Homo sapiens: one gene and its partners. The protein of the gene in region 3 interacts with the protein of the main gene of each other region in a pairwise test. Each region holds a gene or a part of one and is shown on either strand. Other genes may lie near its edges.

Region 1 (8,018 bases), on a different chromosome or scaffold from region 3:
AGGATAAACAATCATGACAATCTTCAGTTTTAAACATCAGCCAGTTGTTTTCAAATATTACTCCTATTCTATATACAGGGAACAGAGTCTTCTGGTTTGGAGCAAAATAATGGAAACTTCTTAACTCCTAAAATTAATAAAAGTATTTTAAAAGCTTTAACATTTGTATTTTCAGGCCGGGCGCAGTGGCTCACGCCTGTAATCCCAGCACTTTGGAAGGCCGAGGCGGGGGATCACGAGGTCAGGAAATGGAGACCATCCTGGCTAACACAGTGAAACCCCATCTCTACTAAAAATACAAAAAATTAGCTGGGCGTGGTGGCGGGCACCTGTAGTCCTAGCTACTTGGGAGACTGAGGCAGGAGAATGGTATGAACCTGGGAGGCGGAGCTTGCAGTGAGCCGAGATCGCGCCACTGCACTCTAGCCTGGGCAACAGAGCGAGACTCCGTGTCAAAAAAAAAAAAATTTTTTTTTTTGTATTTTCTAATTATGTTGTTTTTCTAATGTCAGAAAAGCATCTTTTGGCAATAGGAGAACAAAGTTTTGCTTTCCACTTGGTATCGACTTGGTGTCGAAAATAAGAAATGTTATGTGAAAATAAGTTTTTGTCCAGTGGATAAAATCAGTGTTAAGCTGATTGAGATTTTCAGAGTCCATTTTTTCTTTGTACTTGTTTAATAATAGAGGAGTTCCACATTCTGTTGTCAATAGACATTTAGTGCTGTACTAGAAATTAAAATGTCTCCAAAAATTAAGAATATGAACAAAGATTTAGTTTTAAGAATGTGAATCTGTTTTGAAACCAATTTGTTAAAATTCCAAAAAGTTAACTGTTCTCTTCAAAAGCACAATCTATGTCTATTTGGTATGTCTGCAATGTTTCCATAGTGTAACAATATCCTGCATACTTTACACAATAATGAAAATTAAAAACTACACAGACATCCAAGAATTGGGAAATAATTAAGTAAGATATGCATGTGATAGCAAATAACAGAATATCCAGCCAGTAAAAGCCAAGATATTCAGTTCAAATTAAATAAGCAAGTCACAAAATAGTGTGTACAGTATAATCCTGTTTTTGTTTTAGAAAATGTTTACATGTGCAGTGGGATGGTTATGGTTGGTTCAACCGTAGTTCACACTTTTTCTACATCAATTTTGTAATAAAATTTTTTTCTTCTCAGAATAATTTAAACTCTGTTTCAGATCAGAGTGCATATGCTACCTTATTAAATTCACAACAAAGAAATAAAAGAGTGGTGGGTATAGGACAAATAACTCTAGATTGACTTGGTTGTGACAATCCACAGGTTGGAGCTGGAATCTCGAGTCTGAAGTCAAATTATATCTGACCACCATGTCAAATTGGCAAGTAACTGACATCAAATCATGAGATTCAATACTTTTGTAACCAATTTTGTTAAAATTCCAGAAAATTGTTGTTGGGAGACAATTTTCCCTGCGTCTCTGGTGGTTCTGCATGTCTTACTGACTGCCCTTTCCTCTAGACTATTGTCTCAAGGATGTTTGTACACTGGACAGCCTTGAGAAACATGCTTATTTGTCCAAATGATAAAGATCTGGGTTCCCTAAGCTCAGGGCTCCTTTCCTGTAATTCGACACACACTACATCTAGGTGACTTCTTGCCCACTTTGCATTATCCTGTGGGAACTGGGGCTTTAGGGAACTCAGGCGAAATTGCTGATTTACTGGCTACTGCTGGGAGTAATTCATTCCTGAAATGAATAGTCTTGTGTCTTCCATGAAACTGCCAGGCTAAGTTAGCCTGCAAACAGGGTAAAAATCTCTGTTCCTTCCCAGTTCTTGAAACTTTTTTTTTTTTTGAGACGGAGTCTCGCTCTGTCGCCCAGGCTGGAGTGCAGTGGCACGATGGTCGGCTCACTGCAAGCTCCGCCTCCCAGGTTCACGCCATTCTCCTGCCTCAGCCTCCAGAGTACCTGGAACTACAGGCGCCCGCCACCACGCCTGGCTAATTTTTTTGTATTTTTGCTAGAGACAGGGTTTCACCGTGTTAGCCAGGATGGTCTCGATCTCCTGACCTCGTGATCCGCCCGCCTCGGCCTCCCAAAGTGCTGGGATTACAGGCGTGAGCCACCGCGCCTGGCCCCCAGTTCTTGACACTTTTTAAGGTATAGTTCCAAAAACCTACCAGCGCTGTATGTGCACAAACTAATTTCTGTCTTCAAATATTTTCTTAATTATTCCATACTTACCAGCATTATTACGTGGAACATCTGATAGAAAACCTAAAGAAAAATAGCACGACTATGTGTTAGAACATTCGTTATTAAAAATCTTTTTGTTCTTTCATTTTGAGAGACTCCAATTTGGTGCATTATGTGTACACGTCAGAGCCAACTTGTTAGTAATGAAGTTATCTGTACATCAATGTGTTAGAAAAGCATCTTTTGAAACCAAACGCGCAGCTACTCCTAACAGATTTCTGTGGTCATGTATTTACCAAGAAATTTAAAATATCTCAAAGGTCCTAACGTAAATATTCTAAGCATATCATTACGTTTTAACATTCCTATTTTTAAAAAACTTGGCCCCATCTAGTCCTGACCATGCCTCAGAAACCAAAGGATTAAAAAAACAGCGTTTATGTCAGCGAATCCGCGGGTTTTTATAGTTAAGGGAGGGCTTTGCTCCTCACACTCCACCCGCGAGGAGATCTGCGGACGCACACACCACGCCTAGGCCTCGCGCGCTCACACACCTGCCGGCTCCACCCCGAGGGTAGGCATCGGACCCAATCGGGGGTCGTCCCCCATGGGGAGCGCGCAGGTGGGGATGGGAGTAGCAGGCAGGGCGGGGGCCCACGGGCTTCTCACTGACCCAGTCCCGCCGTCGGCAGCCGCCCCGGCGCCCGTGACGCTCCTGCGGGTTCAGTCCTTTGGCCTCGCCCCACGCCTGCCCTCTCGGCAGCCCCACTCACAAGCCCAGCTCGCAAGCGCAGGCGCCTCTCTTCTCTAGCCCGACCGCCAACTGCAGCACCTCCCTTGTTCCTCGGCTACGGCTGGCGTCACTTCCGGCGGCGTTGCCAAGCAACCGCGTGGTACGAGTAACAACTCCACCGGCTGGCGTCCGCGGCGCTTGGCGCCACAGTCACTTTTCCAGATCTAGGAGCATCATGGACACCTCGTCAGAGATGCTGGTACGGTTTGGACGGCGCTGTGGACGGGCGAAGGAAAGTACAGGTGAGCTAAACTGACCTATCCAGGGACAGGGATTGTTTCTGGACCCCCGGCATGGAGTGAGAGGCGAGGATGCCGAATGAGGGCTTCAGTTGCCTTTTGAAATGGACTCCACCAGGTCGAAAGCATCCTCAATAAGCATCTTTGGGCTCTGTGTGAAGTTAGGCCGTCTTGCCCTCAGGTGAATGGGTGAAGGAGGGAAACGGGGAGTGGAAGTGGGTGGGAGAATGTTTACAGAAATAGGGGTGGAGAAAAGATAGGAAATCAGAGACCCCCACCCCCAGCCCCAGCTGACCTAAAACTGCGCAGTTGCAGCTCTGAGAGTCTGGGTTTTGTTAAATTTCCCGCACGCTTAAAGTTTGTTATTCACTGATTGAATTGGAATATCTCTTGGAAATATAAGTCACCTCTTTAGAGGCTTGGCTCTTCTGCAAACCTGCTGATTGGTCTTTACTAAAAGTCTCTGAAGGAAATATCTCCATTTCCTCCTCTCTAAAGTAAATATAAGGTCTCTCTCTAAGTCAAATGCTTTTAGAGAGTTAAAAAAAAATCGTGTGACATAAAGTACTGTAATTCAGGTGACCTGTTATAACAATTTGATTTTGGAATAGAAATAGACTTCTAAAGAACTCTATCAATTCTAGCTACAACAGTTTCTTACGTCTGTAAATTAGCAATTAATGTTGTCATGGTGACAACTAGAACTTTGGCAATTTGAAGTATCTTCATGTCATTGCCCGAGCTTCTGTAGCAATAGTGCCCCCTGCACCAGATGCAGAGTGACAGCCAGTCATTCTTCACTAGTGGATATTTATGCAGTGGAGGTTTTATGAGGTTAGCAGCGGACTTTTGCCATGTAAAAGGAAAGAAACAGTACCAACATGGCCAGTTTTGGAAAAGCACAATTAGTCCCACACATTCACTTTCCTGCATATGCATTTCTGCACTACCTGGTTTAGATTTACCTAATAGTTGTTAAATAATGTTTTGTGGCAACTAGCTCAAAAGCTTCCACCTGAGCCTCACTGCTAAATTTTAATCTCCATTTTTAGGGGAAGGCTAAGTTGGAGAGAGGTTCAGAGATGTGTGCAGCTATTAGTAAAATAAATAATTTATAAAGATTTAGTGGGATGACATCAGCCAGAATGGTGAAATAGGATCTATGCCTGAAATCCTCTCCTCCATAAAATCAACAAGAACAGTGGCAAAAATCATCAATATCGACTTTTTCAGAACTCTGGAAATTAACCAAAGGCTTGCAACAATTTGTAGAGTGTTTACTAAAGAAAAACAGCTGGATTTTTGTAACAACAGCAAGGTTTTTGGCATTTTAACTTGCCATAGTCCTATACTTTTCTCCCAGCCCCGTGTCAGCCTAGATAACCACAGTAATCACAGTGAAAAATAGTGACTTAGCAACTGGTAGAGGGGACAAAACAGAATTTGACCCACTCCAAAGCCAGACAACTGTTATTATTCGACATGTTTGATAGTTCCTTGGAAAATCTCACTCATGAGGCTTATTGTTATTTAGTCTGACTTCAAACTCACCAAGTATGTTTGTCAAATGTTCAGTGGCAATTTTAAATATCACAGCTATCAGAGGCATGTGTGGGAACTTAATCCCCAATGTAAAAATGTTGGAAGGTAGGGACTAATGAGAGGTGATAGGCCATGAGGGCAGAGTAAAGGGATTAATGCCATTATCTGGGGAATGGGTTCATTATAAAAGTGGGAAAGTTGGCCCTCTTCTTTCTCTCTCTCTCTCTCTGTCTCTGTGTGGTGTGTGTGTGTGTGTGTGTGTGTGTGTGTGTGTGTGCGTGCGCCTGTTGCCCTCTCTTTGCCCTTTTGCCATGTAATGCCTTCCATCATGTTATGATGCGGCAAGAAGGCCCCTGCCAGATGCTGGCACCTCGATACTAGCTTTCTCAGCCTCCAGAACCATAAGCCAATAAATTTCTATTCCTTATGAATTACCGAGTCTCAGGTATTCTGTTATAACAGCATGAAACAGGCAGGCAGTGATACAGTTGGGAGGCAAACAACAAGCTGACCGAAAATCTTAAAAGGATCAGTTGGGAAGTGATATGTCCATAGGGGGCTTTGGAAAGCTCCTGACATATTCCTGGGAATCTAGAAGGCCAAGTGCATGCATAGAGCTATGTATATGCCCAGGAAAGACCTGCAAATGCCTCTCACCTATGACTTACCTTGAGACTCTGTTTAAGAAAGAAGTAGAGGCTAAGATGGAGTTGTAAATTGCCTGCCCGAGCATTGAAGGCATGCCTTAATACTCATAGACAGTCCTTTGGCAAAGACTGGGAGACTTGTTAGTTCCAGTCATCCAAAGATATGTCTGTCTAGTTATTAGCTGACCACTAAGCAAACCAGAGACTGCAGTGACTCCAGTGGCCACATGTGACAAAGAATACAGACTACAGAATTGGTTCAGAGAAGTCCTGAAACAAACAACAACAGCAGGAATGAGAAACTTTGGGTGTATGTAGAAATCTGATTTCCAGAGTTGACACATATATGTACAGTTTTTAATAAAAATTATGAAAGATGAAAAGAAATAAAGTATGACCCAAACACAAGAAAAAGGTTTCAATAGAAAGTGTCTTTGAAATGGACTCCACCAAGTTGAAAGCATCCTCAATAATCATCTTTTGGCTCTGTGGAAGTCTGGCCATTTTGTGCTCAGTTGAATGGGTGGAAGAGGGAAAGGGGGAGTGGAAGTGGCGGGGAGGATGTCTACAGAAGTAGGGGTGGACAAAAGATAGGAAATCAGAGACTGCCCCCCCAACTGACCTAAAACTGTGCAGTTGCAGTTGTTGTAAGCCCAGATGTTGGATTTACTAGATACAAACTTTTGTAAATTTATAGCTATTGTAAATATATTTAAAGAACTAAAACAAAAGTCTAAAGAACTATAGAAAAGTATTAAGAATGTTGTCTTACCAAATAGAGGATATCAATGAATATTTAAAAAAATTATAAAAAGGAACTGAACAGAAATGTTGGAGTTGAAAAGCACAATAACTGAATTAAAAAATTAACTAGAGGGATCAATAGCTGATTTGAACTTGCAGAAGACATAATCAGTGAACTTGAAGATAAGTCAATTGAGATTATTCAGTCTCAGAATAATGAGAAAGAAAAAAAGATAAAAGAATGAAGAAAAATGAGCAGATCTTCAGAGAAATGTAGGGCACCAGCAAATATGCCAACATAAATGTAACTCGAGTTCTGGAAGAAAAAGAGCAGAGAAAGGGGTAGAAAAATTTGAAGAATTAATGGCCAAAAGCTTTCCAAATTTGATGAAAAACATCACACAATCAAAAGGCTCAGTGATCCTCTAAGTATGGTAAACTCAACTCAAAGAGATCAACAGCTGTACACATCATGATCAAACTGTTGAAAGCTAAAGACAGAGAAAATCTTGAAAGCACAAAAGAGAAATGACATTACATAAAAGTAATCCTCAATAAGATTAACAACAAATTTCTTATAAGAAATTATGGAGTCCAGGGGCAGCAGGCTAATATATTCAAATTACTGAAAGAAAAAGTCTTCAAGAATTCTTTTTTTTTTTTTTTTGAGACAGAGTCTTGCTCTTGTCACCCAGGCTGGAGTGCAGTGGCATGATCTCGGCTCACTGCAACCTCTGCCTCCCAGGTTCAAGTGATTCTCCTGCCTCAGCCTCCTGAGTAGCTGGGATTACAGGCACCCGCCACCACACCTGGTTAATTTTTGTACTTTTAGTAGAGATGGGGTTTCGCCATGTTGGCCAGGCGTGTCTCAAACTCCTGACCTCAGGTGATCCCACCTTCAATTATTAATTGAAAAAATTCTCACAAAGAAAAACTGGGTACCAGATGGCTTCATTGGCTAATTCTACTAAATTTTTAATGAAATATTAACATAAATCCTTCAAAAACTTTTTAAAAAATAAGAGGAAGGAGCACTTTCCAGCTCATTCTATAAGGGCAGTATTACCCTGATACCAACATCAGACAAAGATATCACAAGAAAACTATAGATCATTATCCTTTATGAATAGAGATGCAAAAATCTTCAACATAGTTTTAGCACATGAGCTAGATGTGGCACACACCTCCCAGCTACTTGGGAGGCTGAAGTGGGAGGACCACTTGAGGCCAGGAATTTGAGGCTGTAATGTGCTATGGTCACACTTGTAAATAGCCACTGCGCTCCAGCCTGGGCAACATAGTAAGACCCCATCTCAAAAAATAAGTTAATTAATTAAATAAAATACTAGCAAACCAAATCCAACAACATATAAAAAATTATTATATACCATGACCAAGTGGTATTTATCCCAAGAATGCAAGGTTGGTTTAAAAACAATTAATGTAGTACACTGTGTAAATAGAATAAGGAACAAAACTACATGATTATCCTAATAGAAAAAACATTTGACAAATCTAACATCCATTTATGATAAAAACAACAAACTGGGAATAGAAGGGAATTTTCTTAACCTGATGAAGGAGACCTATGAAAAGCCCATAGCTAACATCATAGTTAATGGTGATAGACTGAAACCCTGATCAGGAAAAGAAAAGTATGCCTGCTTTCGTCACTTCTGTTTAACATCATACTGGAAATTCTAGCCATGGCATTTAGGCAAGCAAAACAAAAGGCCATCCAGATTGGAAAGGAAGAAATAAAACTTTCTATATTCACAGATGACATGATATTCTATATTAAAAATCCTAAAGAATGTACTAAACATTTATAAGATCTAATAAAGTTTAGTGGCATTGAAAG
Region 2 (5,013 bases), on a different chromosome or scaffold from region 3:
AGAACAGGCAAATCCATTGAGACAGAAAGTCAATTAGTGGTTGCCTATGAGTTGAGGGAGTGGGGAGACGGTATTAGAGGATAACGGCTTTTTTCTTGGTGATGAAAATGTTCTAAAATTGTGATGGATATACAACTGAATATATAAAAAAATCATTGAATTATACACTATTATTAGTTTTGAGATGGAGTCTCACTTTGTCGCCCAGGCTGGAGTGCAGAGGCATGATCTCGGCTCACTGCAACTTCCACCTTCCAGGTTCAAGCTAGGATTACAGGCACATGCCACCACACCCGGCTTATTTTTGTATTTTTAGTAGAGTTGGAGTTTCACCATGTTGGCCAGGATGGTTTCGAACTCCTGACCTCAGGTGATCCACCCACCTCAGCCTCCCAAAGTGCTGGGATTACAGGCATGAGCCACCGTGCCCGGTCGAATTATACACTTTAAATGGGTGAATTGTATGACATATGAATTCTATTTCAAACTGTTAAAAAAAAAGTATGCTAATGTGTTAACATGTTTTTGCTTTCAGTTCTTTCTACAACTTCAACAGGCTGCACTGGAGGTGTTTGCAGAGAATAATACTCTGAGTAAATTGCAGCTAGGACAGCTAGCCTCTATGGAGAGCTCTGTCTTTGATGACATGATTAACCTCTTAGAACGTTTAAAGCATGATATGTTGACCCGTCAAGTAGACCACGTTTTTAGAGAAGTTAAAGATGCTGCAAAATTGTATAAAAAAGAAAGGTATGTCCTCTATGTAAGTCAGCTCTTAACACCAGTTTGGTAAAAGTTAAAGAATATGTGGTCAGATTTTCAAGGTGTCTAGATAGAACCCGGTTTGGCCTTATGTACTTTATTGTTGATGGAAATATTTCTAAAGTATGTTCTCTTGGACATTTTTTTTGAGACAGTCCTACTCTGTCACCCAGGCTGGAGTGCAGTTGCACGATCTTGGCTCATTGCAACCTCTGCCTTAGAGGTTCAAGTGACCTTCCCACCTCAGCCTCCCAAGTAGCCAGGACTACAGGCATGCACCACCACACAAGGCTAATTTTTGTATTTTTAGTAGAGATGTGGTTTCACATTTTGGGCAGGCTGATCTCCAACTCCTGACCTCAGGCAAGCCACCTGCCTCGGCCTCCCAAAGTGCTAGGATTACAGGTGTGAGCCACCACACCTGGCTGACATTCTTAATCAGAATAAACTGATTATAATTTAGTTGTTTGTAAATATATCAATAGGATAGTGTGTGATCTGGGGTTGAATAGCCTAACCTGTCTCCCATTTTGCAAAGTAAAGTGCACCTGTGGTACTCTGCATACTTTTGTTGTGGTTTATCCCACTACCATTCACTGTGAACACCTGTGTTACTTTCATCCTTGATAGCAAGCAGTATCTTTTTGTCCTAGCATAGTCCCTGCCACACAGAGTGCTTAAAATTCGTTTATTAGTCCTGTTTTTACTAAAAATTAGAGGATAATATTAGCTGATGTCTTAATTAAAATGCTAAAATCAGGCTGGGTGCAGTGGCTCACACCTGTAATCCCAGCACTTTGGGAGGCCAAGGCGGGCAGATTACTTGAGGGCAGCAATTCGAAACTAGCCTGGCCAACATGGCGAAACCCTGTCTCTACTAAAAAATTCAAAGATTAGCTGGGCGTGGTGGTGGGCACCTGTAATCCCAGCTACTTGGGAGGCTGACACGAGAATTGCTTGAACCCTGTGGCTCTAGCCTGGCCAACAGAGCGAGACTCTGTCTCAAAAAAAAAGAAAAACTACATAAATAAAATGCAAAAATTAAGTGACATTTTAAATTGTAATTGCCTTATATCAGTAATTCACATATTAAAATTTGGGGATATTTTGGATATATCCCCATATTAAAGAGTATTTGAGAGTGAAAATATAAATACAGGTACATTTATTTTCTGATAGAGCTTTTAATGTTAGGCTGTATATTTTTTCTTATCCAAAATGCCCTAGGACAGAACACTTCCTCAAATTTAAAATGATTTAAAAACTTGAAAAATAGAAACTGATGAAAATTTTTTGGTAAAAATGTGTTTTTTCCAGATGGTTGTCCTTGCCATCTCAGTCAGAGCAGGCAGTGATGTCCCTGTCCAGTTCGGCTTGCCCGTTGCTGCTGACGTTACGAGACCATTTACTTCAGTTGGAGCAGCAGCTTTGTTTCTCCTTATTTAAAATTTTCTGGCAAATGCTTGTAGAGAAGCTGGATGTATACATCTACCAAGAAGTAAGTAAGAATAGACTGTTTTTGGGCTGTGATAATAAAGACAACTGTTATATGAATTATTCTTTGTTTCAGATAATTCTTGCTAATCACTTCAATGAAGGAGGAGCAGCCCAGCTGCAGTTTGATATGACTCGGAATCTTTTCCCTTTGTTTTCTCACTATTGCAAGAGACCAGAAAATTATTTTAAACAGTAAGCTCAACATTTAACAATTAATATTAATGTATCAAATTGTTACAGGAGGCTAACTCCTTTTAACTTTAGGGTTCTGGAGATGTTTGGGTGGGATAAGATCAGTTGAAATTTTAAAACATTGTCTATCTACTGTATGCTTACAGCACAATGGGGAAACCAAGATGATAGATGTGACCCATGACCTCAAAAAGTTTCAGAACTAGATATAAATTACCTGTTGGGTTTTGTTTTCTAGTATTTGGTTTAATGCTTCTAGTTGCTTAGTTACTGGAGGAATAAATAGAAAATGAAAACAAGTACAGTTGTGCCCTATTCACTAAATATAAGAAATTACAGGGCCGGGCGTGGTGGCTCACGCCTGTAATCCCAACACTTCGGGAGGCTGAGTTGGGCAGATCACAAAGTCAGGAGATCGAGACCATCCTGGCTAACATAGTGATACCCCCATCTCTACTAAAAATACCAAAAAAAAAAAAATTAGCCAGGCCTGGTGGCGGGCACCTGTAGTCCCACCTGCTTGGGAGGCTGAGGCAGGAGAATGATGTGAACCCGGGAGGCGGAGCTTGCAGTGAGCCAAGACTGTCTCAAAAAAAAAAAAAAATTACAAATATGTTTAATACCTAATAGGCCAGGCCTGAAAGAAATTTGTTTCCTTAAACATTTGACATTAATTTTGGTTCTAAATATAATTATAGTTTCAGAATTTGTTGATCTAAAATTTATAGGCCAGGCATAGTAGCCCACATCTGTAATCCCAGTACTTTGGGAGGCAGAGGTGGGAGAATTGCTTGAGGCCAGCTGTTTGAGACCAGCCTGGGCAACATAGCAAGACTCCATCTCTACAGAAAGTATTAAAATGAACAAACAAAAAAAAGCCAGGTGTGGGGGTGTGGACCTGTAGTCCTAGCTACTTGAGAGGCTGAGGCTGTAGTGAGCTATGATCGTGCAGTTTCACTCCAGCCTAGGTGACAGAGCAAGACCATGTCTCAAAAAAAAAAAGTAAAATTTAAATTATGTTTGGGTTTTGTGAGGTTATAAAGCATTCCTTTTAGACTTATAAAATGAAAGCTTATGTTTACACGTTTCATAGGACTGTTTTTAAAATTTATTTTAATGTTCTTTCTGCTGCTTTCATTTATCTCTTATTTTTGTCTTTTCCCATGTTCTAATCTACCTAAAGTTATAGCTATATTTAATATAGTGTTAATATTAAGTATTGTATTTAGGGAAATAACGGATACATATTGAAATAGGGATCGTATTACCTTATAGTAATCTAAAGAAATAGCAACTCTGCACCTGTGTAGTCTTACCATGTTAAAAGAACCAAATAATAAATCCATAAATATTTTTATAGAGAACATGTGGACCAGCAGTGCAGAGAAGCTGTTTAGGATTCTCAAAATTGTAATATAATTGATGCAGATAATGGAGATCTCATTTCCCTCCTTTGTTTTCCCTAAACAGTATAAAAGAAGCCTGTATTGTTTTGAATTTGAACGTCGGTTCTGCACTACTGCTGAAAGATGTACTGCAGTCAGCTTCAGGGCAGCTTCCTGCCACAGCAGCATTAAATGAAGTTGGAATTTACAAACTGGCTCAACAAGATGTTGAGATTCTACTTAATTTGAGGACAAATTGGCCTAATACTGGAAAATAATGTCTTTCAGAAAAAGGTTTCTTTGGTTTTTGTTTCTAAGAAAGAGGAAGCCAATTGGATTTCAAGTTATATGATGAAATTCTGAATTAATGAAACTGGAAAACTTTATAGAATTACTTATTATCTTGGATTTATGGTGTTATTAAAATGCTGACCATATTTCCTTCATCCTCTTGTTCCTAAGGAAACAAAAACAGAAAACGAAACAATGAAAACTCAATTCTATTTACAAGTATAAATGCTGAGTATGTCTGTTGAAGACGAGCAGAGATATTAAATTATAACCAACTTTCAATTTCCTGTGCTAATTAAGGGAAATTCTGTTGTGGATAATCAAACATAGCCAATAAATTTTTTTAAAACTCCCTTTGAATGCATATTTGTAATTGAGGCACCTGTATCTAGTTTGGGAATTAACTGTATTTCCATGAGGAAACTGGCAGGGCACAGTGTCTCATGCCTGTAATCCCAGCACTTTGGGAGGCTGAGGTAGGAGGATTGCTTGAGGCAGGAGTGCGAAAACATCCTGGCCAACATGTCAAGACCCTGATGCATGCCTGTAGTTCTAGCTACTTGGGAGGCTGAGGTGGGAGGCTAGCTTGAGCCCAGGAGGTCAAGACTACAGTGAGCTCTGATTGTGACACGGCACAGCAGCCTGGGCAAGCGAACAAGACCCTGTCTCTAAAGAACAAAACAAAACACATTGTGAGATGGTGAATAAGATAGGATTGTTCTTCATTTCTCACAAATGCCCTTCTATTTTAAATGCTTCCTAGTTTCATTCTGTGTGACAGTGGGCAACCCTTTCTTTCTGGATGAAACATTTCAGGCCATGGCACTCTGACTCAAACATTCCCATGTGGTAGGGAATGTAATTAAACATTTTTATTATTTATGTA
Region 3 (3,899 bases):
AAAAAATCTCCCAAAGCCCCAAATTCCTGTTAGCCAGGTGGAGGCTTCTGATACGTGTATGAGACTATGCAAAAGTACAAGGGCTGAGATTCTTCGTGTATAGCTGTGTGAACGTGTATGTACCTAGGATATGTTAAATGTATAGCTGGCACCTTAGTTGCATGACCACATAGAACATGTGTCTATCTGCTTTTGCCTACGTGACAACACAAATTTGGGAGGGTGAGACACTGCACAGAAGACAGCAGCAAGTGTGCTGGCCTCTCTGACATATGCTAACCCCCAAATACTCTGAATTTGGAGTCTGACTGTGCCCAAGTGGGTCCAAGTGGCTGTGACATCTACGTATGGCTCCACACCTCCAATGCTGCCTGGGAGCCAGGGTGAGAGTCTGGGTCCAGGCCTGGCCATGTGGCCCTCCAGTGTATGAGAGGGCCCTGCCTGCTGCATCTTTTCTGTTGCCCCATCCACCGCCAGCTTCCCTTCACTCCCCTATCCCATTCTCCCTCTCAAGGCAGGGGTCATAGATCCTAAGCCATAAAATAAATTTTATTCCAAAATAACAAAATAAATAATCTACTGTACACAATCTGAAAAGAAAGACGCTCTAACTGCTCAGATAGGTGCTGCGGTCCAGCCCCCAGCTGGAGGAGACCCTGAGTCCAACCCAGGCCTCCCGAGGGGGCCAGTGAAGGGATCCCACACCCACCGCCCCTATGTAGGGCAGGGAAGAAATTGCAAAGGACTTGGGGGATAGATGGGAATGGGAGGGCAAACTGCAGCACTTGTTAAATTAATTAAAGAAACAAACCAGAAGCACAAAAACGGGGAAGGAGAGGGGAGAAGGAGCAGGTCCAGTGTTCCCAGGCCCCCAATTCTGGGGGCAAATGTTGCCACTTTTAGCTGGACCTTCCCAGGGAAGTCCCCCTTTCCCCCTTGTCCAAACTGAGTCCAACTGCTCACACCACTGGTGCAAACCTAAAGAGAATGGGAGTGTGTTGTGTGAGGGAGGGGAAAACCCCAGATGCCCTGGAGGCAGAGTCCTTGCCCCCTCGCTCTGGGCAGGGGTGAGGGCACCACGCACCCTCCTTGTGTCCTCTCTCCAGGCCTCTGCTTGTTATTGCTTGAAGCCCCACAGTCTTATGCCCATGGAGCAGGTGGGGAGGCAGGAGAAGGGCAGAGGAAGGATCCAGGGTTGTGACTAGATTCCGGGGATGGAGAGCGTGGGGGTCTGTGTGAGCCAGAAGTCTGAGGTCCTGGGTCTGAAGACACCAGTCCAACCCTCACTGCCGGCTGGCCTCAGCCTCCACTTTCACGCTGCTCCTGCGACCCTCCACCAGCGCGGGATGGGGTCCTGGGGCAGGACATCTGTCCAGCAGCCCTTCCTCGAACTCTGCAGGGAAAAGGGGGCAGTTAGGAGACTGCAGGGTGACTGGCTGCAGACAGAGGTGGTTGGGAACAGAAGCAGGGGCAAAGAAAGCTGTGAAGATGGGCTCAGTTTAGGTTTATTGAATTACTGCCTCCTGCCCACTGCATGTGTATGGGGGGTTCCATTCCCATGTGTGTGAGCCCCCTCCCCTCCCTGGCTGTGCGTAGCTCTGTCTCTGTCTGTCTCTCTCTCTTTCTCTCCCGCCTCCTCGGTTGCGCTGGAATTTCTGGTTCTGTCAGGAGCTGCGGGGGTGGTTTGGCTCTGACCTCTCCCCTCCCCCCTTCCCAAGCTCTGCCACCCCCACTCATCCCTGGCCCCCTCCCAGGCCCCTCCCAGGCCACTCTACCATGGCCCCCCAAGTTTTTTGGTAGCCAAATCAGAGGGAGAACAGGAAGCCAGCCTCCGAGCTCCTCCCTCAAGAAGAGCCCCCCTTCCAGTCCCCGCCCCCACTTCCCACCCACGCACAGTTTAAAAATACCAAGCCAGGGTTGGTGGCTTTGTCTGCTGCGTCACTCTCAGCCCAGCGGCTGCCCGGCCCTCCGCCTGCCCACTCCCTCTTCCCCCTTCCACACACAAAGCATCACTGCTTTGGGCTCCTCTGCTTCCAAGCTGGGCATCCCCATCCCCATACCCACAACTCCTAGCCTGCTCCCCACTCCTGGGTTGGTGGAAGTGCCATCTGAGCTTCCCTTATTGATGCTCCTCCTTCCTGCTCCTTCATCCTCTTTTCTCTGTCCCCCCATTCCCCAGTTCCCCTTTCACAGATCTACACTAGGACCAGACTTTCCATGGTGGGAGCAGCTCGGCAGGGTCTGCCTCTCTGCACCCCAAGGCCTGGCTGGCTGGAGCCCAGCCATCCTACTGCCCTCTCTGACGACTATATCCCTCTTCCTCCCACCTGGCCCCAGGACACCAGAATTGCTGTGTGGGGCCTGAGTGGCCGGGGTGCTTGGGGACAGCACTGCTGGCTGCCTCACCTGCGAGAGGTGGCTTCGCAGGCACACAGGGGCTGAGGCGGCCCACGCGGTCGTGGGAGACGAGGCGGGCGAGCCGCAGCCCCTCGTCCATCAGTGTCTGCTGCAGGATGTGTCGGCTCCATAGCCCATGGGCTGGCAATGCCAGAGGCAGGTCAGCAGGGGGCGGCGTCAGCCTTGGACATGACCCCACAGCTGTGGGCATGGGCACTGGTCAGGTAAGGGGCTGCAGCCAATGGAACCCCCACCCTCAACCACATAGCCAGCCCACAGGCCCTTCTGCCCCCCCTCCAGCCAGGTCTCCCAACCCTGTTTCAGGCACTGCCTCCTGGCTCACTCCTCCCCCAACCCCCTCCCCTACTCCCCCACCCTCAATGAAGAGAAAAGTGTTCTGAGGCACACTCACCCTGCAAATGTCCATCCAGACTCTCCCCAGACAGGCTGGCGCTGTCCTCCTCCAGGCTGGGGCGGTATGGGGGTACATAGGACTCAGGGCCTGGGGGAGGCTGCTGGATTTCAGGGTGACTCTGTTCTCCAACCTGTGGATGCCCAACATGGGGAAATGAAGACCTGCCAAGGGAGGGGATTGGGGAAGGCTGCCCAGTGCCCCTATATGCACCCCGGAAAACATACCTCTTGTTTCAGCTTCTTCAGTGGAGGGCCTCCCAGTTCTTCAGGGTGAAGCCTGAAAAGATGGGTAAGAATAAAGTGGATGAGGCTGACGAGGGCCACTCGACTGGCAGAGCACAGAACCCAGCCAGAGGCATGTGTTATTTAAAACCTTTGCCAAGAAGCTGGCCGAGAAAGAGTCTCTAGTTCAAGCACTATTGTTGTAGGGGGTTGGGGGGACCCGACATGGATGGGAGGAGAGACCAGACCTGAGACAAGCTGACTTGGCCAAAAGCAGGACATCCAGGTGGGCGGGAAGCAGGCCTAGAGCTGCCTGAGCTGAAGGTTAGGACATGATCTAACTCCATAGCAGGATTCCAGTCCAGGAAGGACCTGGGGAAGGGGTCTCACCTGGAGCCCTTCAAGGAGGACAAGTAGGTGCTCTCTCGGGCTACTTGGCGGGACAAAGAGAAGAGCTCCACTCTCCGTAATAAGAGCGTGTTGTCCCTCATGCAGAACTGGGCAGCAGCCTCGTTGATGGTGAGCTGTGGAGGGAGGGCAGCCAGGAGAGTCAGAATTCGAACTTCCCCGCTGCCTCACCAGACCTCCTCACACCCCTTCACCATTGGACAAATGAGGCCCATCCATCAGACGCTTGCTTTGGTTTTGACACTACATGGGAGCTTTCTGAGGTGGGAAGACAGAGGTCAGCACCCACAGCTTCCTAGGAATGCCCGGGGCCTCCTCCTCTCCTGTGGGGTCCTGAGTGACAAGGAGCTGAACAGCTCGGTGCTGCCTGTATCTCTGCTTCCCCCTCAGCTGAGGATGGAAGCACTGCGGCCGCTGGGGTAGGGGCCTGTTGGGGAGGGGATCAGGGCCTGGGGTCC
Region 4 (7,580 bases), on a different chromosome or scaffold from region 3:
GAAATTAAAGCCAGGACATTTGAACCCGGAAGGCAGAGGTTGCAGCGAGCCGAGATTGCACCACTGCACTCCAGCCTGGGCAACAGAGCGAGCCTCCATCTCAAAAAAAAAAAAAAAAAAAAAAAAGACAGAGGTTGCTCTCTGAATGCCTGAGGGATTCAGGGCTGAGTCCACCAACATTGTTTCATGAAACTCTACTCAGCCAGCCAGTGGAGGCATCATGTATACAGTCAGCACTCCACATATCCTCACTTCCTGAGCATCTACAGTGCAAACCGACACACTCATCACACTCAAACAGCACATGCCGCACGTCAACCCGAGCCTCCCTCACAGGTTGCTTTCATCTCTTTTTCTCTCTTCACTGCAAGTTTTTTGCCCAAATGCAATTAGACACTTTTTTTTACAGAGACAGAAACCAAAGAGTTTTAACTAGGCACCACTACAGCAGTGGCTGTTGACCATCGTCTCCTGGCTGGAACCAGGGAATCCTGTGGGTGAGGGAGGAGCAATGCAGCAGCCCCAGCTGACTCACTCTGGGGTGGATGGATGGATTTACTCACTTACTTACTTATTTATTATTTGATTCTTGTTCTGTTGCCCAGGCTGCAGTACAGTGGTGTGATCTCAGCTCACTGCAGCCTGGACCTCCTGGGCTCAAGTGATCCCACCTCAGTCTCCCAAGTGGCAAGTAGCTGGGACTTCAGGCACATGCCACTATGCCAGCGAATTTTTTAAACTTTTTGTAGAGACAGGCTCTCACCCTGTTGCCCAGGCTGGTCTTGAACTCCTGGCCTCAAGCCATCTGCCCATCTTGGCCTCCCAAAGTGCTGGGATTACAGGTGTGAGTCACCACACTCAGCCCACTCAGTTTTGAGTGGCCATTTGCTTTGACTCAGCAAACACTTCTGATGGTAACAAAGCACCAACTGGGTGGCTGGTTTCAATCCTACTCTTGCCACCCAACACCGCAACATTTTATCAACCTGGAGCAAATGCTCTCGGGTCCTGAGGAGCTGGCCACACAGCCCATTTTGCTGGTGGGACAGTGGGAAGCCCCGCCCTCCTCCCATCCCACACCACTTAGGCAAGAGCTGTGCCTAGGAAATGTCACCCGTAACTGGTCCGCACAGACCCTGTCTTCTAAAAGGGTGCTGTGCCTCCACCAGACCCCATGAGCAATACATTTGTCAAGCACACGCAAGACATGCCAAGGCCAAGGCCTGACTGATTTGACAGTAAAGACACAATGAGCCCCTCTCATTCAGACCTTATTACTCACAGAGTGAAAATAAGAGAAGCCTGAGGTGGCAGCTCCCTGCTGTCCTGGTGCCACACACTAAAAAGGACAACACTGAAACAAAAGGGGTCAGAGAGCATGCGTTGCGGGACACCCACTGTGGAGGAGCCCCTTGACACTGCAGCTGGGTGGCGTCCTCATCTGCAGCTCTGTTTTGAGGGCCGGGGGCAGGGAGCCTCACCCTCACCAGGGCCAGTGAGGCAGGAAGTGAGGAACAGTCTCGGGAGACAGACGGAGTGAGCGGTGGCCTGGGTGCAGCCTGATGTTCTGGGAGGAGCAGGCTTAGGTCAGGTGCTGTGTGCACCTCTGCATGGCCTATGGGGATCCTGCAATGGCTCAGGGCCCCACAGCAGAGCTGTTTCTCCGCCCACACAACAGACATACAACCTGACACATGAAAACTCACAGAGAAACACAGAAAGGCACATGTGACAAAGAGCCACACAAAAGGCATGCAGCAAAGCCTTTTGACACACGTGCGCGCACACACACACACACACACACACACACACACACAGGCACCCACTCCTTCAAACCTTGGTGTTTGCCCAGACACAGCTGTGTCAGAGACAGGGGACCTGCAGCTCCCCAACACACACCAGTCACCCCACACTAACCCAAGGTGTCACCAGCCAGCCTGGTGGACTCGGGAGGCCAAGTGGAGGTGGACAGTGGCCGCAGAGCAAAGGCCTTCGGTGGATACCACCCGACGGGAAGAGCCATGGGGCCCATCGTGTCCACACACACAGGGGAAACGCACGTCTGCGAACCAGCTCCCCCATTCCTACACATATATCACCCATCCCTGGGGCTCTGGAGGATGAGACCCCTCCTTCCAGACCAGGCCCTCCCTGAAGACCCAGAGGTGGCCCAGGAGTCCCCATGCCTGAGTGACATACTGCTCATGTCCATGAAAAAGAAAAGGAACTTTGTGTGTGTGTGTGTGTGTGTGTGTGTGTGCGCGCGCGCACAATGGAAGTTTATATATATATGTATAAAGTATATATATATATTCATATATATATTCTTTTAAGTTCTGGGGTACATGTGCAGAACGTGCAGGTTTGTTACATAGGTATACACGTGCCATGGTGGTTTGCTGTGCCCATGAACCTATCATCTACATTACGTATTTCTCCTAATGCGAAAGGAACTTTTTTATCTGAGGAATGTGAGCTCCCTTTAATTATCTGGCCCAGAGAGGCACTGGAATGAAACAGCAGTCACATCCCACTCCTACTTGAGCTAACGACCTCTTGAAGCCAATTGCTCTGTGGGTTCCAGACTGACACCAAGTAGGCATAAAAAGCCATACGCTGGACACCATAACTCTTACCCAGTAGTCCAACACCTTATAGCCAGTCACTAAGGGTTCTCTCTGGAAAGCAGTCAGAATTCCTGCTGACTTCATATCAGCCCACTCCTTGTCCCCTTCAGTCTTTAAAAACTTGCTTGTAATAAGGCTGAATGAAGCACTCCCAGGGCAACTTGGTGTGTCCTGGGCAGCTCTCTCAGCCTTGGCCCAGACAAACTCTCTATATGAACTGTGGTTCAGTTTGTTTCTTTAGGTTGACATCCACATTAGGGGAGCAGTGTTGCTGGGCTGGGGAAGCTGGTTCAGGTCAGACGTTGCACCAAGGGTTGGAGAAGGGGCCTTCCTGCATCAGCACCCGGACAAGGCAGAGGAGCAGGTGTCCAAACCCAGGCCTGGCCTGCTCCTGCTGTGGCTCACAGCCCCCACCCCACCTGGCAGACCCCGGAGCTGGCGACAGTGTTGCCCAGCTGGCCACAGACATATCATCACGTGGGGCTGCCCTATATCCTCCCAGTCTCCACACAGACACTCTTCATGGACTGGGGGACTGAGGGCAGGGACACTGGTGAAACAGGCAGGCGTCTTCACCCAGCTAATCATCCCACTCACCACCTCCGGGGGAGGTGACAGTGACCAAGCCCAGCCCCAGCTGGCTCCTGGTCACTCACTACAGACTCAGCTCCCACAATCTCGAGTCCCACCTCCAGCTCCTGCCATTCTGAGGGACCTGGAGGCCAGGGTGCCCGGCGCATGACCAGCTCTGGGTTGTGGACCGCCCTCCACGGCAGTGGCCTGAGCGCTTGTCATTATTCACTTTATTCATGCCTGGTTTCTGTCTGGAAGGGACCACAAGGACATGGCGTGCAGGGGAGCCAATCCTGCCAGGGACTGAGGAAACAGATCCTGGAGAAAACCAGACACTTTGCTGGCACTTCAGGGGGACCCCAGTTGGTTGGCTCAACGCCCCCTCTTCCCCATAGCCAATTACTAACCAATGTTCTCTCTGGAAACCAGTCATAATTCCTAACCTGGTCAAAGCAGGGTCATCTCACACAGCCCAGCCACCCAGCAGGCAGCTAAAGAGTGCCTGATGAAATGCAAGTCTGATCGTGTCTGCGTCCCCAAGCCCTTCCGTGCCCCCTGCTGCTCTATGGACAAGCCCCCAGCAGCCTCTGTAATGCACAGCACCCGCCCTTGTCTCCTGTGCTGGCTTCCGCAGCCTGGCCACACTGGTCCTCTCGCCCACCCACCTGACCTGACTCTGGCAGGGCCTTTGCAGGAGCCATTCCTCCACCCGAGCCCCTCCTATTAAAGCCTGTTCCTAGACGGTTCAGCCCCAGCCACCAGAAGCCCCCCAGCCCCGGCCCAGCAGCTGGCCTGTGGAGCGGGGAGAGCGCAGTCTGGGCTCACGGGCTGGGGGCCACGGAGGCCCAGATGGGGACTCTGGCTCCGACTGTCCTGACCCAGAGGCTCTAGGGCGGTCCTGTCTGTCTCACCCCGGGGGCGGGGAGGACGCAGACAGACCCCAGCGCCACTGCTCGGCCGCGGATGGTGCCTTAGACCCAGGTCCTGTGGGCTCTGGCCCGAGACCCCTGCCTCTGGGGAGGCCGGTGACCGGGACAGTCCACCTCGCAGGCGCGCCGGCGCGGAGCCCGGACCTCGGCCCGCAATGACTCAGCAAGGGCCGGTGGGATTCTCCGTGGTCCTGCGATATCCAGACGGCGGAGTCTCGCCTTTAATGTCGCGCGGGGAGCAGGCAGGTGCGAGCCTGGGCTGAGCAAAACCCTCCTTGGAGTCTCCGCAGAGGAGCGGGGCGCGCCTCCTGAATAAGCAGGCGGCGGGGCGCGGGGCAGGGCGGGGCAGGCGGCCAGGCCCTCTCGGGACTGTCGTAAAAGGGGGCGGAGCGCGCCGCGCGTGGGACAATCGTAAAAGGGGCGGGACGCGCCGCGCTCGGGATGTCGTGAAGCTGGGGGAGCTCGTCGCCGCCGCCGGCGGCTAGCGGGCGTCCGCGCCATGGAGCGCTACGCGGCCGCCTTGGAGGAGGTGGCGGACGGTGCCCGGCAGCAGGAGCGACACTACCAGTTGCTGTCGGCGCTACAGAGCCTGGTGAAGGAGTTGCCCAGGTACGCAGGCGGGGCGGGCGGAGGCCTGCGGAGGCGGCTTCGTTTCCCGCCGGGGCTCACCGCGCCCCCCTACCCGCAGCTCTTTCCAGCAGCGCCTGTCCTACACCACGCTCAGCGACCTGGCCCTGGCGCTTCTCGACGGCACCGTGTTCGAAATCGTGCAGGGGCTACTGGAGATCCAGCACCTCACCGAAAAGAGCCTGTACAACCAGCGCCTGCGCCTACAGAACGAGCACCGAGGTGCGCGGGGGCAGCGGGATGAGGTGCCGCCTCCTCCGGGTCGGCGCCTCCGGGCAGCTCTTGGTATCTGTGCAGATCAGCTCCTTCCTTGGAAGTGTTCGGAAGAGGTCTCTAAGATTGACAAAATCAACGGGCGCAGAGACTGAGACAGCGCCTTTTTGGTGATCAGTGGGTCCAACCAGTTTTGTTTTCAGTTGCGCAGCACCCACCTTCTTAGCAGAAACTCCCTGTTCGGGCTTCCCTGTGCCCCACGCGCTTCCAGACAGGATGGCCCTAGGCCTCGGTGCCTGATTGGCCTGCAGGCAGACTCTGGTGGTGGCGCTGACTGCAGCAGCATTGCCCCTCAGTAGTTGGAAGTCTGTTGACAGTTGTGCAGCAAGCGTCTTTCAGGGTCAGTTCCCTCTCAGGCCTCGCAGGGCCTCATTCCAGTTGCACATCAAATTCCTAAGCACTGTCTCCTGTGGCGCCCTCCCAAACCCGAAGAGCTTCCCACTTGAGCCAGGCCTGCTTGGTGGGCTTGGGAGCCCTTTCCTGCAAATTATATAGGGCAGGTCCCCCTGCACCATCAGTTTCCACCTTTGTTATTTTTCCCAAACTTCTTATTTTAGAAGTTAAAACATTTAGAAAAGCTGAAAAGATAGTATAGTGCATACGCTTGTGCTCTTCACTAAAGTTCAATAGTTAACGTTTTGCTCTAGTTCTTGACATCCCAAAATATATACATGTGACAGCATAGCATTCACCAAGAGTCTTCAGCATTCCTGGAGACCAGGATTTTCAACCCAGCCATGCTGACATTTGTGGCTGGGTAAGTCTTTTTGGTGAGATGCTGTCTTGCGCATTGCAGGATGGCAGGGGTACCCTCCCTAGTCCTGAAAACCAAGAATGCCTCCAGACAACCTGGGTGGTGGGGTCAACCTTGGCCTTGGATTGGGAGCAAGTGCTCTAGAACAAAACTGGTCTCCTACACAGCTGCAGAAGGTAGCCCCCTGAGAAATTAACTGTTCCGGGTGTCTCCTGACTTTCAGTGCACGGCCACATCATGGTACCTAACTTGTGGCAAATTGTTGCTTTATAAGTAAGGATCCAGTCCAAGTTCATGTACTACAATTGGTTACTTTGGTCTCTTTGCTTCTGAAACAGTCCCCAACATTTATTGTGGCATTGACTTTTTTGTAGAGTCCAGGGCATTCTAATTTTATAGAATGCCCTGCTCTTGATCTATCAGACGAAATGCTTCCTCTTGCATTTAACCTGCTTCTCCACTCTCTGGGTTTCCTGTACACTGGACTGCTGGTAGAAGCCTGATTAGAAGCAGGTTTAATGTGGCAAAAATTTCTCCTAGCAGTGCAAGGCCCCCTTCCCCAGAAGGCAGGCAGTGTCCATCTGCTCCAGGATTGGTGTGTTTTTATCAAGAATGGATGTTGGATTTTGGCAGTTCCCTTTTCGGCAGCTCTTGAGATGATCACGTGGTGAATCATTTTCTATTACTACAGTGAATTACAGTCACTTGAATTCCATCCTACTGGGTCGTGCTGTAGTATCCTTTTTATGTATGCTGGATTTGATTTGCTAAAATCTTAAGAATTTTTTGGTCTATGTTCATGATAAACTGTGGTCTATAGTTTTCATGTAATATCTGGTTTGGGTATCAGGGTTTTTGCCAGCCTTATAGGATGAGTTTCGAAGTGTTCTCTCCTCTTCAGTTTTCCAGAAGAGTTTGTGTAGAATTGGCATTACTTCTTCCCCTAAATGTCTGGGCGATTGTCTTTTTAAAATTTTTTATTGAGCTGTAAGATGTATGTAGTTTACTAATCCCAAGCGCATGGCTCATTATTCCTTAATGCCCAGACTGTGCCATGTGTGGCCAGTTGGGGGCGCTCCAGGCACCTTTAGATGCCGCCCCATCATTCTGTGAGCACTTTCTTGCTTTCTGGTTCAGGTATGTGTTCAGGCTCATCTTTTCTTGTTTTCTCCGTGTCTCAGTCCTGGAATCGGCCATTTTTCCACAGAGCTATAGTTCCTTATAGCAGGATGGGGAGTTTTAGTAACTGCCTGGGCCCAATGCTGTTTGTGCTTCAGAAGGTTTGGGCCAGGCCCTGGTTCCACCAGCAGCAGGCATGCCTGCATTGACTTTCTGCTTCTCCTGCTGATTTGGCAGGGGCGACTGGCTGCTCCTGCCTCCTTTGTGTTCCCTGGTCATGTCTAAGGCCAGGCCCCTTCTGCCCAGGCAGCCAGCGTGGCTCTCTTCTTGCCTTTTGGTTGTCTATCTAGTGGAATCTGGTAGTGGACCTGGCACTTGTAGCAATGTTTGATCAGTAGAGTGAAGGAGATGACATTTCCCTGCTTCCCTGTGTTATGGAGCTGTCTTGAGGGGGGCTTTTGGTAAATACCATCGTCGAGGTGTGTACAGAATGTGAAGAGACAGGAGATCGGGGAAGGCTGTAGGCACAGCGGGAGCCAGGCTACCTGCAGGGGAGCCTCAGGGGCCCTGGAGTTCCCTGGGGACTGGCCACCAGAGAAGAGCTGCAACATCAGGGCTCTTCCCAGGAACAGAGTGTTGGGTTTCACCTTTTCTTTTGGCCAGGGACCCCTCCCTCCT

What was found.
Region 1: the proteins of NAB2 (region 3) and PHOSPHO2 interact in binary tests that used the Homo sapiens proteins (3 or more experiments, as listed by UniProt).
Region 2: the proteins of NAB2 (region 3) and RINT1 interact in binary tests that used the Homo sapiens proteins (3 or more experiments, as listed by UniProt).
Region 4: the proteins of NAB2 (region 3) and DGCR6L interact in binary tests that used the Homo sapiens proteins (3 or more experiments, as listed by UniProt).

Annotation. Positions count from the first base shown.
Region 1 is NC_000002.12:169,689,470-169,697,487, reverse strand, and holds the start of PHOSPHO2 (pyridoxal phosphate phosphatase PHOSPHO2), read right to left. Parts: upstream 3,020-8,018; 5' UTR 2,866-3,019; exon of another isoform or gene 2,747-2,865; intron 2,274-2,746; 5' UTR 2,241-2,273; intron 128-2,240; 5' UTR 1-127. Other genes in the region: CFAP210 (cilia- and flagella- associated protein 210), read left to right, coding at 3,161-3,227. UniProt on the Homo sapiens protein: Phosphatase that has high activity toward pyridoxal 5'-phosphate (PLP).
Region 2 is NC_000007.14:105,563,198-105,568,210, forward strand, and holds the end of RINT1 (RAD50-interacting protein 1), read left to right. Parts: intron 1-535; coding exon 536-750; intron 751-1,926; exon of another isoform or gene 1,927-2,079; coding exon 2,080-2,260; exon of another isoform or gene 2,261-2,332; coding exon 2,333-2,451; intron 2,452-3,125; exon of another isoform or gene 3,126-3,921; coding exon 3,922-4,114; 3' UTR 4,115-4,256; coding exon of another isoform or gene 4,257-4,293; 3' UTR 4,294-4,480; downstream 4,481-5,013. Other genes in the region: EFCAB10 (EF-hand calcium-binding domain-containing protein 10), read right to left, coding at 2,352-2,418, 4,270-4,293. UniProt on the Homo sapiens protein: Involved in regulation of membrane traffic between the Golgi and the endoplasmic reticulum (ER); the function is proposed to depend on its association in the NRZ complex which is believed to play a role in SNARE assembly at the ER.
Region 3 is NC_000012.12:57,092,106-57,096,004, reverse strand, and holds the end of NAB2 (NGFI-A-binding protein 2), read right to left. Parts: intron 3,558-3,899; coding exon 3,424-3,557; intron 3,089-3,423; coding exon 3,037-3,088; intron 2,943-3,036; coding exon 2,810-2,942; intron 2,599-2,809; coding exon 2,407-2,598; intron 1,394-2,406; coding exon 1,284-1,393; 3' UTR 529-1,283; downstream 1-528. UniProt on the Homo sapiens protein: Acts as a transcriptional repressor for zinc finger transcription factors EGR1 and EGR2. Isoform 2 lacks repression ability.
Region 4 is NC_000022.11:20,317,037-20,324,616, reverse strand, and holds the start of DGCR6L (protein DGCR6L), read left to right. Parts: upstream 1-4,556; 5' UTR 4,557-4,628; coding exon 4,629-4,738; intron 4,739-4,817; coding exon 4,818-4,978; intron 4,979-7,580. UniProt on the Homo sapiens protein: May play a role in neural crest cell migration into the third and fourth pharyngeal pouches.